Linked DNA regions of Homo sapiens: region 1 is linked to region 2. The links come from fine-mapping of genetic effects on gene expression. Tissue or cell type: whole blood. Region 2 holds a variant in brackets; the other region holds the start of a gene. All regions are shown on one strand. Distances are from middle to middle.

The links. PIP is the estimated chance that this variant, and not a neighbour inherited with it, causes the effect.
Region 1: it holds the start of PLBD2, and the variant in region 2 is fine-mapped to the expression of PLBD2 in whole blood (INTERVAL, PIP above 0.99).

Annotation. Positions count from the first base shown.
Region 1 is chr12:113,354,550-113,362,269 of GRCh38, forward strand. It overlaps PLBD2 (phospholipase B domain containing 2), which reads left to right and starts at 4,038. Exons shown (of 12, transcript NM_173542.4): 1 at 4,038-4,341. The coding sequence starts at 4,052. It overlaps LOC105369989 (a long non-coding RNA gene), which reads right to left and starts at 4,961. Exons shown (of 3, transcript XR_945346.3): 1 at 4,781-4,961. RefSeq lists silencers at 3,852-4,351, 4,402-4,461 and an enhancer at 4,797-5,296.
Region 2 is chr12:113,386,566-113,394,285 of GRCh38, forward strand. It overlaps PLBD2 (phospholipase B domain containing 2), which reads left to right. Exons shown (of 12, transcript NM_173542.4): 10 at 372-524; 11 at 1,179-1,341; 12 at 1,894-5,064. The coding sequence ends at 2,061. It overlaps SDS (serine dehydratase), which reads right to left. Exons shown (of 8, transcript NM_006843.3): 7 at 7,327-7,451; 8 at 5,880-6,584. The coding sequence ends at 6,376. Among named protein-coding and RNA genes, the nearest start is that of SDS, 13 kb to the right of the region's middle. RefSeq lists an enhancer at 6,649-6,848. The variant T/G (reference allele first, on the strand shown) is at 2,847.

The DNA.
Region 1 (7,720 bases), 32 kb before region 2:
CCTTGGTGTTTTGTTAGACATTACTCTTCCTGTCTTTTGCATACCCACTAGCAACGTGCATGTGCCTGTTTCTCCAGGCTCACCAACAGGGTATGTTGTCAAGCTTCTAAACTTTTTTTTTTTAATCTCATAGAAAGAAATGATATCTCAGTGTAGTTTATTTAAAGTTTTTTTTTTTGTTTTTTTTTTTGAGAGGGAGTCTTGCTCTGTCACCCAGGCTGGAGTGCAGTGGTGCGATCTCAGCTCACTGCAACCTCCGCCCCCGGGGTTCAAGCGATTCTCCTACCTCAGCCTCCCGAGTAGCTGGGATTACAGGCATGCTGTAATTTTTTTTTGTATTTTTAGTAGAGACGGGGTTTCACCATCTTGGCCAGGCTGGTCTTGAACTCCTGACCTCATGATCCACCCGCCTCGGCCTCCCAAAGTGCTGGGATTACAGGCGTGAGCCACTGTGTCCGGCCCTAAAGTTTTTGTTTTTGAAAACATGTACTCTTTATCTAGTTTCTCCCAGTGATAACAACTTATGTAACCAGAGTATAAATATCAAAATCAGGAAATTGACTTTGATATGGAACTTTTTTTTTAACTTTTAAAAATTTTTTGAGACAGGGTCTCACTCTGTTACCTAGGCTGGAGTGCAGTGATACAATCTCAGCTCACTGCAACCTCCGCCTCCCAGGTTCAAGCAATTCTCGTGCCTCAGCCTCCCGAGTAGCTGAGATTACAGGCGTGTGCCACCATGCCCAGATAAATTTTTTTTGGATTTTTAGTAGAGATGGGGTTTCACCATCTTGCTCAGGCTGCTCTTGAACTCCTGAGCTCAAGCGATCCTCCCACCATGGCCTCCCAAAGTGCAGGGATTACAGGCATGAGCCCCCGAACCCGGCCTGATATGGTACTTTAAATTACAAATCCCAGCACTTTGGGAGGCCATGGTGGGAGGATCGCTTGAGCCCAGGAGTTTGAGACCAGTCAAGCAACAAAGTAAGACTCCATCTCTTCAAAAACTCAAAAAAATTAACCAGGTGTGGTGGTGCATGCCTGTAGCCCAGCTACCTAGGAGACTTAGGTGAGAGAATCACTTGAGCCTGAAAGATTGAGGCTACAGTGAGCTATGATTGCACCACTGCATCCCAGCCTGGACGACAAAGTGAGACCCTGTCTCAAACCCAAGAAAACAAAAATCAAAAAACTAAATTACAGACCTTATTTCAGCAGTCTTTACATGCACTCTATTTTCACTGTATATTTCTTACTTCTTCTCCTTCTCCTTCTTCTGGACAGAGTCTCACTCTGTCGCCCAGGCTGGAATGCAGTGGCATGATCTCGGTTCACTGCAACCTCCACCTCCCAGGTTCAAGCGAATTTCCTGCCTCAGCCTCCCCAGCAGCTGGGACCACAGGCACATGCCACCACCCGGCTAATTATTTTGTATTTTTAGTAGAGATGGGGTTTCACAATGTTGGTCAGGCTGGTCTTGAACCCCTGACCTCACGTGATCTGCCTGCCTCGGCTTCCCAAAGTGCTGGGATTACAGACATGAGCCACTGCACCTGGCCTCTTCTTTTTTGAATGGTTAAGTATAGAGTTTGTTTTCACCCGAAGATTGAGGTTGGGCACTTAGGAGCATCGCTTCATGTTACCCTGAATGTACCATTCAGGGTATACGCTCTCTCACCATATATTTCTCTGAATGTTTATTTTCAGTGTAGCTTTAATTTGCATTTCTCCTATAGTGAATGAAGCAAGCATTTTTCATAAATATAATGGTCACTTCTACATCTTTGTTCATGAATTATTTGCTGATGCTTTTTGCCCATGTTTTCTGTCTGGTTTTCACATTTTCCTTCTCAAACCTTTTCTTTCTTTCTTTCTTTCTTTCTTTCTTTCTTTCTTTCTTTCTTTCTTCCTTCCTTCCTTCCTTCCTTCCTTCCTTCCTTCCTTTCTTCCTTCCCTTCCTTCCCTTTCCCTCCCTCCCTCCCTTCCTTCCTTCCTTTTCTCTCTCTTTCTCTCTCTCTCTCTCTCTTTCCTTTTTGACAACTTCTTGCTCTGTTGCCCAGGCTGTAGTGCAACTCACTGTAGCCTCGACTTCCTAGGCTCAAGCAATCCTCCCCCCTCGGCCTCCCAGTAGCTGGGACTGAGGCAGAAATTAAAATAATAATAATAATAAGTACTACATATATTCACTCCAAGAGAAGTAAGAGCTAAGGCCCAGAATGTGGCAAGGCAAGGGTTAAAAAAGAAGAAGAACAAGTTTTCCTCTGCTTAGCAGCTCACTTCAAGGACAGTTATAAGATAACGCTGTCCGAAAAGCCAAGGCCAGAGGACTGGGCTCCAGACCCCGCCCTCCACCCCACCGCCCGCCTCCAGAGCAAGGTTGAAGGAAAAAAAAGAGAGAAAGACAAATTATTTTATTGCTATTCCTTTCCTTGGTCTCTTAAGCATGACTATGTTTTACAAACCTCTCTATTTAGCCAGTTCTTGTTTTACTTTTGATGCAGCTACAAGGCCACCAGCTATGCAAGGCCACAAGTTATGCACTATATGATTAACTACTTTTGTTTTACCTTTCTAAGCTTGCTTATAAAAACCCCACAATATCTTTGTTCTAGGCTCAGCTTTTTGGATGTGAATCCACTGAGCCAGTGCGTACGTTGAAATAAACATCCTCCTGTTCTCTCATATTGGTCTCTCCGTTCCTCAGTTTCCCACAACAGGACTACAGGTGTGCACCACCAAGCTCAGCTAATTTTTATATTTTATAGAGACAGAGTCTTGCCAGGTTTCCTAGGCTGGTCTCAAACTCCTGGGCTCAAGCATTCCTCCCACCTTGGCCACCCAAAGTGCTGTGATTACAGGCATGAACCACTCACCTGGCCTTCCCTCTCAAATTTTAAGAGTTCCTGATATATTATATGATATATGTTGAGATATATATACATATATATATGTAATGTATATATATGATATATGTTGCAAATAGTTTCTCCTGGTCTGTCAGATGTCTTTTGACTTTGCTTATTGAGTTTTTTGACATGAAAAAGTTAAAAAATTTATACAGTCAAATGCATTAATCTTTTATTGCATCTAGGTTTTTTTTTTTTTTTTTTTCTTTTGAGACAAGGTCTCATTCTGGTTGCTCAGGCTGGAGTGCAGTGGTGCAATCTCGACTCTCTGCAGCCTCGACCTTCCGGGCTCAGGTGATTTTCCTACCTCAGTCTCCCGAGTAGCTGGGACTATAGGCGCGCCTCACTGCGTCCGGCTACTTTTTTGTATTTTTAGTAGAGACGGGGGTTTCACCATGTTGCCCAGGCTGGTCTTGAACTCCTGAACTCGCCCGCCCTGGCCTCCTGGAGTGTTGGGATTACAGGCGTGAGCCACCGCGCCCGACGGCATCTAGGTTTTGAGTAGTAGTTAGACAGCTTTTTCCCACACACATGTAAAAAGGGTATTTGAGGGACAATGGGAAAAGTTGGAATAAAGACTGCATTAGATAACTGTATTAAATAAATGGCAAATACCATTAAATAAATCTGGCCGGGCGCGGTGGCTCACCCCTGTAATCCCAGCACTTTGGGAGGCTGAGGCAGGCGGATCACCTGAGGTCAGGAGTTCAAGACCAGCCTGGCCAACATGGCGAAACCCCGTCTGTACTGAAATTACATAAATCAGCTGGGCGTGGTGGTGCGCGCCTGTAATCCCACCTACTCAGGAGGATGAGGCAGGAGAATCGCTTGAACCCGGGAGGCGGAGGTGGCAATGAGCCGAGATCGCGTCACTGCACTCCAGTCTGGGCGACATATGGAGGTTTTGTCTTGTCTCAAAAAAAAAAAAAAAAAAAAACTTGGGGAAGTGTGCTAAACCGGGTTTGCGTAGGTGGAAGGGGCGGCCGGGCTCTTTAAGGTGGGTCCCGCCCCGTAGGCCTCCCCTCGCGCCAGCCCCTCCCATCCCGGAAAGGCTCAGCCCAAGCCCGGCCCCGCCCGCCCTCGGCCCCGCCCATGGCAGAGCGCAGTCACGTGACCCGGGCTGCGGGGCGCAGCATTGTGCGGTCATGGTGGGCCAGATGTACTGCTACCCCGGCAGCCACCTGGCCCGGGCGCTGACGCGGGCGCTGGCGCTGGCCCTGGTGCTGGCCCTGCTGGTCGGGCCGTTCCTGAGCGGCCTGGCGGGGGCGATCCCAGCGCCGGGGGGCCGCTGGGCGCGCGATGGGCAGGTCCCTCCAGCCTCCCGCAGCCGCTCGGTGCTCCTGGACGTCTCGGCGGGCCAGCTGCTTATGGTGGACGGACGCCACCCTGACGCCGTGGCCTGGGCCAACCTCACCAACGCCATCCGCGAGACTGGGTAAGGGTTGGCTTATCCCCACGCGGGGCCATCGGGGGAGGGGGATGCGTGGGCGCCGGACCTCGCCTGTTCCCGGGACCGGCCTCTTGCCGGGTGGGAACGCCCGTTTCTCTGGGGGTCAGCTACTCCCGAGGCTGCAGCACCGCCCTGCGGGCCAAGTACCCTGTTTGGGAGCTGGCTACTGCGGCATCCCTCACCTCATGGGGCCAGTCCCTTGCCTTCAGCCAGTGGTGACAGTACTTCTGTCCCCAAGAAGCCAGTTCCCTACCACCGAGGCCGCAGTGCCTGCATCTGGATCAGGTCCATGGCTGGTGGGTAAATTCTATCCTCACGGGGACCTGCTCCCTTCCCTAGACTTTGCCTCCTCACCCCATGGAGGCCAGCCCCCTGTCCCCAGGCCTGAGGGGTGATGAGAACTCAGCAGGAGACTAATTCTTACCTGCTTGGCTGTGGCTTGCTCGTGGGTGCCAGCACCCTGCCTCCCTTCCAGTGCCAGGTCAGCAGGACTGAACCTGGGTTCCAGGCTAGTCCAAAAGCAGAGGGTCCCTAAAGTCACATAGACCCATTTAGTATCCTGCTAGGGCTCTGCTCCTCCCTTGTCTTCTGTGTCCTGGTCCAAGGGGAAGTCCTTGGCTGGATGCCGTGTTTGGCAGCCATGCTCACCATCTTTATTGCTGGAACCCAGGCTGTCATTCTGATGTGTGAGTCTCACCTAACTCCTCCGCCTGTCTGGGCTCCCGTTTCCCCATCTGTGGCCCAGATTTTGAGGATGTGCTCTAGTTGGGTGGTCATGTGCTGCAAGTTCTGTACAAGGGCTTGTGCCCATTCATTTATTCATTACCCTGATGGTTGGCCTTAGGGACACAGCTGAGCAGCTGTCTCTACTCAGTGGGAAACACAGACAGCGATAGAAGAGAAATCAGAGTCAGTGGGAGTGGGAAGGATCAGCTTCAAAGCCTTGTCAGCAGGGCCCAGACGCTGGATCAGGCTGTGCTGGGGGATCCTAGGGAACCCGGGGTGCATCCGTCATATCCTAGTGTCCAGATGATGCTAGGGAACCCTAGCACTAGGATGTGCCCAGGATGTGGTCTGTGCTCAGACCACACTGCCCCCTGCAGCAGAAAGGGCCTCCTCCCACTTTAGCCCCTATCCATTTTACTGGCATCCATTGGCTTCTGCAGGTGTTAGGGAGACACAGGATGCCGAGGACACCCCCATTCTGGTGGCACTTGGGGGGTACATCAAGTAGACGTGAGATTTGGGGGAGATATTTGCACAGACACAGGGGCACTGGTTGGGGTAAATCTGGGAAGGCTCCCAGAGAGAGGAGGCCACAGAGTGAGCTGGCATCTGTGGAGGGAACTGAAGCTTTGTGGCTGGCCTCGGGGGCTGCCGGGACTCTTGGATCTGGTGACCCGTTCTTTGCTGACTCACTCATGTTTTTGGCCCTGCATAGCAGAATCAAGAGGACATGACAGAACTGTTCAGGCGAGGAGGGGCAGGAGCGAGGCCCAGCATGGGGAGGGGGCTTTGGCCTCTGGAGGCCCCTCCTGGGCTGTGTTGCTCTTGACTATGGTAAACATGGAAGTGGAGAGAAGGCTTCCTTGATTGTGCTGGATGGAAAGTTCTTCCAGGCTCAGCCCCTCTGCTGTGTGACCTTGGGCAAATCCCTTCACCTCTCTGAGCATGTTCCCTCATATCAAGGTAGGACCAAAAGGGTCATGGAAATTCACTGGGGTCACAGAAAGCACTGTTTATTTATTTTTATTTGTATTTTATTTTTTGAGACACAGTTTCACTCCGTTGCCCAGCTGGAGTGCAGGGGCACGATATTGGCTCACTGCAACCTCCCCACCCTGGGTTCAAGCGATTCTCGTGTCTCAGCCTCCCAAGTAGCTGGAATTACAGGTGTGTGCCACCATGCCCGGCTAATTTTTGTATTATTAGTAGAGATGGGGTTTCACCATGTTGGCCAGGCTGGTCTCAAACTCCTGACTTCAGGTGATCTGCCCATCTTGGACTTTCTGGCTTGTTTTCGGCACCCTCTCTCATCCCCTCCTCTTACGCTCACATGCCCCTTTCCCTTTGAGTTTGCCAGCCCTTGAGGCTCTGATGCAGGGAAAACCATAAAGCGAGCCCCATTTTATAGGCAGGAAACTGAGGTCCTCAGAGACAGCTGCTTGAGGACTCAGGGTCAGATGAAAGAAAGCCATAGGGGGTGTCCTGGCTCCTGATCAGCAGAATCTCTGATCTGTGGGGGACTCTGTGTCTTATTTCGGAGGGTGGGGGCAGGGATTTGATGCCTCTGTTCACTCAGAATTAGGATCCTCCTCCTTCCTGGTGAAATCCCCAGATTTTGCCACTGGGGATCCTGGGATTATCAGGATAAATTCTCCCTACACCATAATCCTTCGTCTTTTTTATTTTTTAAAAAAGGTTTTTTTTTTTTTGTTTTTTTTTTTTTTTTGAGACAGGGTCTCCCTGTGTTATCCAGGCTCGAGTGCAGTGGTATGATCATGGCTCACTGCAGCCTTGAACTCCCAGGCTCAAGAAATCCTCCGACCTCGGCCTCCCAAGTAGCTGGGACTATAGATACGCACCCCCATGCCTGGCTAATTTTTAAATTCTTTTTTTTTGTAGAAACAGGGGTCTTGTCATGTTGCCCAGGCTGGTCTTGAACTCCTGGGCTCAAGTGATCCTCTCACCTTAGCATCCCCAAATGTTGGGATTACAGATGTGAGCCACTGTGCTCGGTACCTTCTTTCAGTTGTGCCATATCTTGACTTTGGGCCAACACCCCCACACAGCCTGGAAACATTTATGATTTGGTGCTTGGAGATCAGAGATGTCACTAGGAGCAGAGCCTGCCTCAGTCTAGCTCTGGCCTTGGTCCTGGGGAAGCTGTATCCTCCAACCTTACTTTGTCTTCCTTCCCTGATCTGATCCCACTGACCAGCACCTTATCGACGAGGTTGCTTAAAGTAAATCACCATCCCGTTGAGAGAGGAAGTGAATCAAAGTTAGAGGGAATTAACAAATTTAGTAAACGGGGAAGCATCCCAAATCCACCAACCAACAGGCAAAAACAGCCCAGTAAAATGGATAAATAAGGCCCAGCTGTTTCTTTGAACAATCACAGGAGATGAATCTATACCATCAAGAATGAGAAAGGAGGACAGGCGCTGTAGCTCATGCCTGTAATCCCAATGTTTTGGGAGACCGAGGCAGGAGGATGGCGAGGGGCCAGGATTTCGAGACCAGCTTGGGCAATGTGGTGAAACCCTGTCTCTGCAAAAAAAAAGTAAAAAATTAGCTGGGTGTGGTTGCGCATGCCTGTGGTCCCAGCTACTCGTTTGAGCCTGGGAAGTCGAGGCTGCAG
Region 2 (7,720 bases):
TTGGAGTGCAATGGCTCGATCTCAGCTCACTGAAACCTCCACCTTCCAGGTTCAAGTGAGTACATGCCTCAGCCTCCCGAGTAGCTGGGATTACAGGCACACACCACCGTGCCTGGCTAATTTTTGTATTTTTAGTGGAGACAGGGTTTCACCATGTTGGCCAGGCTAGTCTCAAACTCCTGAGCTCAGGTGATCTGCCCGCCTCGGCCTCCCAAAGTATTGGGATTACAGGTGTGAGCCACTGCACCCAGCCTGAATGTCGTAGTTGTAAGTAATAATGTCCTGGTGTGACTGCCCCTCCCCTCCCTGGCCACAGCCTTGGCTGAGTGAGGCCAGTGGGGGTCATGGGTGACCATCCTTGTCCCCGGCAGGTCCTTCGAGACTGTGTTCAATGCCAGTGGGCTGCAGGCCCTAGTGGCCCAGTATGGGGACTGGTTTTCTTATGACGGGAGCCCCCGGGCCCAGATCTTCCGGCGGAACCAGTCACTGGTACAAGACATGGACTCCATGGTCAGGCTGATGAGGTAGGTGCCAGTTGGGTGGTGGGTTGGGGAGAGGGAGGCCGCAGGAACACAGAACTTCCTGTGCGCTTTTTGTACCAACTCATTCAAACTTTGCTGCCAGCCCCAGAGGGCCAGCAGGGGGTGGTCAGATGTTGGACACCAGTGCAGCAGCTCGGTGGCCGCTCTCCACTTGGGCCCTGTCACTGTCCTCATAGCTAAGGGGAGGATGCTAGACATCTGTTGAGTGACCTGTACTGCTAGGCACTATGCTTGGTACCAGGAGCAACAGGTAGAAAACCTGTGCCCCACTGTCCTGTCTCTTGGGCGGTGCAGAAATCCATCAAGTTCTTGCACTGGTGTCAATGTGTAAAGATGGCTGTGTTCCAAGAGAGGCTATCCAGGAACAAACGGGTGCCTCACCTGGCTGGGGTGGTGGCATGGAGGCCTTCCCTGAGGATGAGTGCCTGAGCAGAGAGCTGAATAATGAAGGCAGAGTGACTTAGGTGAAGGGGTCCGGGCCCCAGGCAGAGGAACTGTCGGGGGTAGTGTGCAGTGGGAGGGGCTCATCAAGTTGAAGGCTGGCAGCTGTTAACGGGGCTGCCTGTGAGGATTTTGGCCCCCGTCTTAGCCTCTCCTTCCTGGGATGACTGATGTTCCCTCCTTTTCCCCATCCAGGTACAATGACTTCCTCCATGACCCTCTGTCACTGTGCAAAGCCTGCAACCCCCAGCCCAATGGGGAGAATGCTATCTCCGCCCGCTCCGACCTCAACCCGGCCAATGGCTCCTACCCCTTCCAGGCCCTGCGTCAGCGCTCCCATGGGGGTATCGATGTGAAGGTGCTGCCTCCTCCCTAGGGCCTGAGCTGTGGGTGGGGGAAGTCACCATCACCAGCTTTGGGGAAGGGACAGGTTGGGGCAAAGCTGATGGCGGGGCAGGAATCACAGTCGGAATTGGGCTGTGGTTGGGGTCACAGTAAAGGTGACAGTATGGGCTGGGCACGGTGGCTCATGCCTGTAATCCCAGCACTTTGGGAGCCCAAGGTGGGCAGATCACTTGAGGTCAGGAGTTTGAGACCAGCCTGGCCAACATGGTGAAAACCCGTCTCTACTAATAATACAAAAATTAGCTAGGCGTGGTGGCGGGCGTCTGTAATCCCAGCTACTCAGGAGGCTGAGGCATGAGAATTGCTTGAACCCGGGAGGCAGAGGTTGCAGTGAGCCAAGATCACGTCACTGCACTCCAACCTGGGTGACAGAGCAGAGACTCAAAAAAAAAAAAAGTGACAGTTCAGAATTGGGCTCTGGGGTCAAGGTCAGGGTGGGAGGCTGGGTGCCTGGATTGGGGCAGGCCAGGACCCCTGCTCAGCTGCGGCTCTGCCCTGTCCCCAGGTGACCAGCATGTCACTGGCCAGGATCCTGAGCCTGCTGGCGGCCAGCGGTCCCACGTGGGACCAGGTGCCCCCGTTCCAGTGGAGCACCTCGCCCTTCAGCGGCCTGCTGCACATGGGCCAGCCAGACCTCTGGAAGTTCGCGCCTGTCAAGGTTTCATGGGACTGAAGTTCTGTCCCTGCTCTGCTGCTTTCGCCCCTGCTGACCCTCGTCAGGGTCACCCCCGTCCCAAGGCCACCGGACTTCTAACTCCAGCCCCTCCTGGGGGCTTCGTTCTCTGATCTGGGGTCTGAGTCATCTCCTCCTAGAGTGGGTCACGAACCTGATGGGGCTCAGAACTGACCCCCTCTCTCCCCCGAGGTGGGTGGGCACCGTGGCGTCTCTTCTGCCCTGCCCTAAATCTCCCACTCTCTGTTTCTGTCTGTTTCCTACTGCTGCTCTCTCAACCTCATTCCCACCTCTGGGGCCCCTTCCTCGTGCTTCTCCTTCCTGAGGGTTTGGGAAGGTCCTGGGGCAGACTCTGGGGCTCCCATGGGGTGGAAGGAGCCTGTTCCAGCACCCTTCTCCCAGCTGCATTCCCACGGGTGGCCCTGGAGCTGGTGAGCTTTGTCTGGGCGTTGTCTTCGGCTGGCATTGCTCCTCCCAGCTCTGGCCCCTCTGCTCCCTCAGGAAGCAGTCCCCTCGTCTCCCTTTCTGGGCAGCTTCCTTGAGGACAGAAACTTGAAAACAAACACAAACCAAAGTTTCTGGCCATCTGTGGCTGGAGGGTTCTGAATGTCCTCTCTCCATGTCAGGCAGAGGGTCAGCCCCCATGCTTCTGCCTCAGGCCCCACCCCACCCCACCCCAGGCCTGCCCCTCACCTCAGGGCCATACCCACAGCGCCCTGATGGAGGAACCAGACCGCAGGCTGTGCCACCATTAAACAAGAGCGGCTGTGGCCCCATGCTGTGCT[T/G]CTTGGGGTGGCAGGGAAGGTGGGGTCAGCGCTTTTTCTCCTCTCAGGTTTGGGTTCTGCGCCATCCCCCATGCAGCCTCCTGTGCAGCCCTCTGTCTGTCCTTCTGTCCATTCATTCATCTGCCAACATACTCACCCATCATCCATCTGCACAGCCTTCCACCCACCCATCCGTCTTCCATCATCCATCCATCCATCTACCTATCCATTTATCATCCATCCACTCACCCATCCAACCACCCATCCAACCATTCAGCCATCTCCATCTGTCCATTTTCTTTCTTCTTCTTTTTTTTTTGTTTTTGTTTTTTCTGAGTGGGAGTTTCACTCTATTGCCCAGGCTGGAGTGCAATGGCATAATCTCTGCTCACTGCAACCTCTGCTTCCTGGGTTCAAGCGATTCTCCTGCCTTAGCTTCCCAAGTAGCTGGGGTTACAGGCATGAGCCACCATGCCTGGCTAATTTTGTATTTTTAGTAGAGACAGGGTTTCACCATGTTGGCCAGGCTGGTCTCGAACTCCTGGCCTCAAGTGATCCGCCCGTCTTGGCCTCCCAAAGTGCTTGGATTACAGATGTGAGCCCCCGCACCTGGCCTCATTTGTCCATTTTCCATCCACTTACCCACCCACCCATTTACTCATCCAGCCATTGACTCATCCATCCACCTATGAGATCAGACAGGGAGGGATCCTTTTTTGTATTGGTCTGTATACCACAGCATGGCTTACGAAGTTCTTATCTATCTATCACCCATCCACCCACCCATTTATCTACCCACCCATTCATCCACCCACCCATCCAACTACCTATCCATTCATCCATCCACCCATCTGCCAACGCATCCATCCATCCACCCACCCAATCATCTACCCACTCACCTATCCACCCATCCACCTACCTATTTGTCACCCATCCACCCATCCATCCATCCAATCACCCATCCAACCATCAATCCAACCATTTTCATCTGTTCATTTTCCATCCATCTACCCGTCCACCCATTCACTCCTCCATCCACCTACCTATCCATTTATCACCCATTTACCCATCCATCCATCCATCCTTCCAACCATTTATCCACCCATCCAAACATTTCCATCTGTTTTTCCATCCATCTACCCATCCACCCATTCACTCATCCATCCACCTTCCTATCCATTTATCATCCATCTACCCACTCACCCATCCATCCAACCTTCCAACCATTTATCCACCCATCCAACTATTTCCATCTGTTCATTTTCCACCCATTTACCCATCTACTAATTCACTCATCCATCCACCTACCTATCCATTTATCATCCATCTACCCACTCACCCATCCATCCATCCTTCCAACCATTTATCCACCCATCCAACCATTTCCATCTGTTCATTTCCATCCATCTACCCATCTACCCATTCACTCATCCGTCCACCTATCCATTTATCACCCATCTACCCATCCATCCACCCACTCATCCATCCATTCATCCATCCACCCACCCACCCGTCCATCCACCTACCTATTCATTTATCACCCATCCATCCACACACGGGTCTGTGCAGATTCATTAATATCCACCCATGCATCCATATTTATCTATTTTCTATCCATCAGCCATCCATTCATTCATATCCATCCATCCATCTATCCATCCAGATGTTTATTGAGCACCTGTGTTCTGGGTCCTATTTGGGAGCCTTGTTAACCACCAAGACCTTCCTAAGCCATATTGTGGTATACAGACAGATACAAAAAAAAAGGCTCTCTCCCTGTCTGATCTCATGCAGCCTGCCTTGGAGACAAGACTCTCCCAGTGCTGTGTGCTTGGAGAGAGGAAAGCACACAGCCCTGGAGTCAGAGACCTGGGTTTCAATTCTGTCTCCACCTCTTATTAGCTAGCTATGGACTCCTCTCTGAGCCTCGATTACCTCATCTGTGAAATGGGGTAATGGTGTGAGCAGCGTTTCCCTGGGGGATGTGATGCAGCCCACTTGGGGCCTCATGCACTCAGCATCTCTTTATTAGCAAACACTTATTGAACCCCTAGTACATGCCAGGCACTGTTATGAGGTCCCGGGGATACTTTATAACAAAAGGGACAGAAGCATTCCTGCTCTTGTGAAGTTTACATTGACTAGATAGTAAACAAAATAAATGAAATATGCAGTGTGTCAGTGCTGGTAAACCCGTGGAGAAAATAAAGCAAGGTTGGGGTCTGGGGTTGGGAATTGACTTGTGGTTTTATCTTATTTTCCTTTTTATTTATTTATTTATTTTTTGAGACGGAGTCTCACTCTGTCGCCAGACTGGAGTGTAATGGCACAATCCCGGCTCACTGCAACCTCTGCCTCCTGGGTTCAAGTTATTTTTCCTTTTTGTAGAGACAGAGTCTCACTGTGCCAACCAGCCTGGTCTTGAACTCCTGGGCTCAAGCGATCCTCCCACAGGCGTGAGCCACTGCGCCCAGCCCTGAGTGACTCTTAAACTTCAGTTTGAACTTGGGGTCATCCAGAAAGTACCCTGAGGGTGGGGTTCCCTCCATGCTCTGGAGCCAGCCCCAGTAATTCCTCTTTGATCTATGATACGGGCTTCAGCATATGCTTTTGTTGGAAGAGAGGGCTCCATGTTTGAGGAGGGTTTGCATGACATTGACTTCAAGTCCACCCACCCTTTCCCTCTCCCAGAGATGGGTGTCCAGTGTCAGCTCACACACGCCCAGGGGAGGGGGCCTCACTTCTTTGCTTCCATTGGGTCTGTGATGAAATAATTCTGACTTAGTAGGAAGGACTTCATATCAGAATGAAGTTGGCCTCCCCAGCTGCTTCTGCCTTCAGCGGAGGCAGCCTTTGTCCCACCCCAAGTCCCTCTTGTTTAGCCACCTGCTTCCTGTGGTACAGGGATGCCCCTGTCCTGGCATGCAAGACTAGCTGGAGTCAGGCTCCTGGCCTCACTCTGGGGCCCCAGTTGAGAGCTGGGGCTGAGAGCAGACTTGGGGTGGAAGGAAAGCAGGAAAGGAGACAGCTGATGATGGGAAAATGCACAGGATCTTTGTTTCATAAATATATTTTATTTTTCAATGAAAAAGTTTGCACATTAGAAAAATTAGTAAGGGTCAGGGGTGGGCTTCCTGGGAGGATGGCTGAGATGGTTCCTCAACCCTGGTTGGTGGCCCTGTTGACCTTCACTGGGAACAAGTTCAGGGGCGAGGTCACAGCTTTGAGGAATTCCTCACTGCTGTGATTCAGGTCTCTCCTGTCCACCCTGCTCTGGGTACCTGGTGTGTTACTTGTGGGCACTTGTCACGCCAGCAAGTTGGCTAAGGATGGGCACAGAGCAGTCACACAGATACCAAAAAGGTCCAATTCATAGCCTCGCTGGCTGCCGACCTTTGGCCTCTGCATAGTGGGCTCCTGATAACAAGAAGTTAACCTGCACCCAGGCCACAGGTGCTCAGCCAAACATACGACGAGGCGCTGGATAAAACTCCAGCCCCTCCAGGGGTCTCTTGGGCTAGGAGAGCACAGATCGGTAAGGGGTCCGTCCTCACTTGGGCAACCTATTTGTCATGCCCAGCTGTTCCTTGAGCGCCCGCAGCTGGGCCAGGCTGATGTTGCTGCCCCCGCAGACGATGACCACGAGGGATGGCAGCGGGGTTCGGAGATTCCCCTCCAGTTGGAGCTTCTGGATCACGTGGCTATAGACAGCGGCCAGGGCTGCCCCGCAGGCGGGCTCCACCAGGATCTTCTCATCATCTGCCAGAGAAGGGGCGTGACAGGGGCGTGGCCTGAGTTTCCCAGGGTGCACAGGAGCTGACAGGCCATTGGCAGGACCTGGGAATACTGAGCCAATCAGCTCTCAGCCCTGGCTGCAGCCGCAGGTCCTGAACCAAACGTCCCGTCATCGGCCTGAATTGGCCCTTCCAAGCCTGAGCCAGGGCCTGGGTTTCATCATGAGTGCTAACACTGATAGAATGAGTGTGGTTGCGTGAGCACTGTGTTGAGAAGGATTCTGAGGCATCATCTGAGCAAGAGTTCCATGGTTGATTAGCCAAGTGTGCAGCAGGTACAGAAGCATAAATGGTACTATTTTTTTCTCTCTTTTTTGCCATCCCTGCCCTAGACGGAACCCAGAAAGAGTCCAGCCTAGTTACAGACTCACCTCTGAATGAATCAAACTCTGAGCCCCATGTTTTCCTTTTTTTACCCTGGCTGCCAGGAAACTCAGAAGCAACATTTTAAATATTCACTTATTGTTTTCTGCTGCTATGGTTATCAGGCTTACTTTTCTATTTACTTTTCCATTATGTGTGGCTTTTGCTTTTCTATTTCTACACGGCATTGTATTATCTTCTATTAATGGAAAATTCTAGGCAGAGGTGGAAGACAGAACTGTGAAGGAAACTTGGGGTGAGTGGGATCCCCAGTGGCATACCAAGTGGACAGCCACTTAGCGCCTGAGTCAGCAGGTCAGGTCATGGGAGGACCTGGCACATACCCACGAACTTCTCAATGGCGGCCACAGCCTCCTGGTCCGAGATAACTTCAGAGAAAATGGGGTGTTCCTGAAACAGCTTCAGGGCCTGAGCCCCCACAGTCTTCACGCCCAGGGCCTTGGCAACACTGAGAGAAGTGGGAACCCAGAAGAGGATGGGAGTGGGGGAAACAGGAGAGAGATGGGGGCAGGGAGGGAGAGAAGGAGATGGATGTGAGACAGAGAAGGCAATGCATCTGGGGGCAGGGGGACAGGTATCACCTCTGCAGCTGTAAAACCCTGAAAAGCCTCAGGGATCCCCAAACCAAGTGGGGTCTTCTAATAAGGTGCAGAGTGTTTGAATTGACATCATATAGTATATTCTTTAGTATCATTTTTTTAATTTTTTTGAGACTGA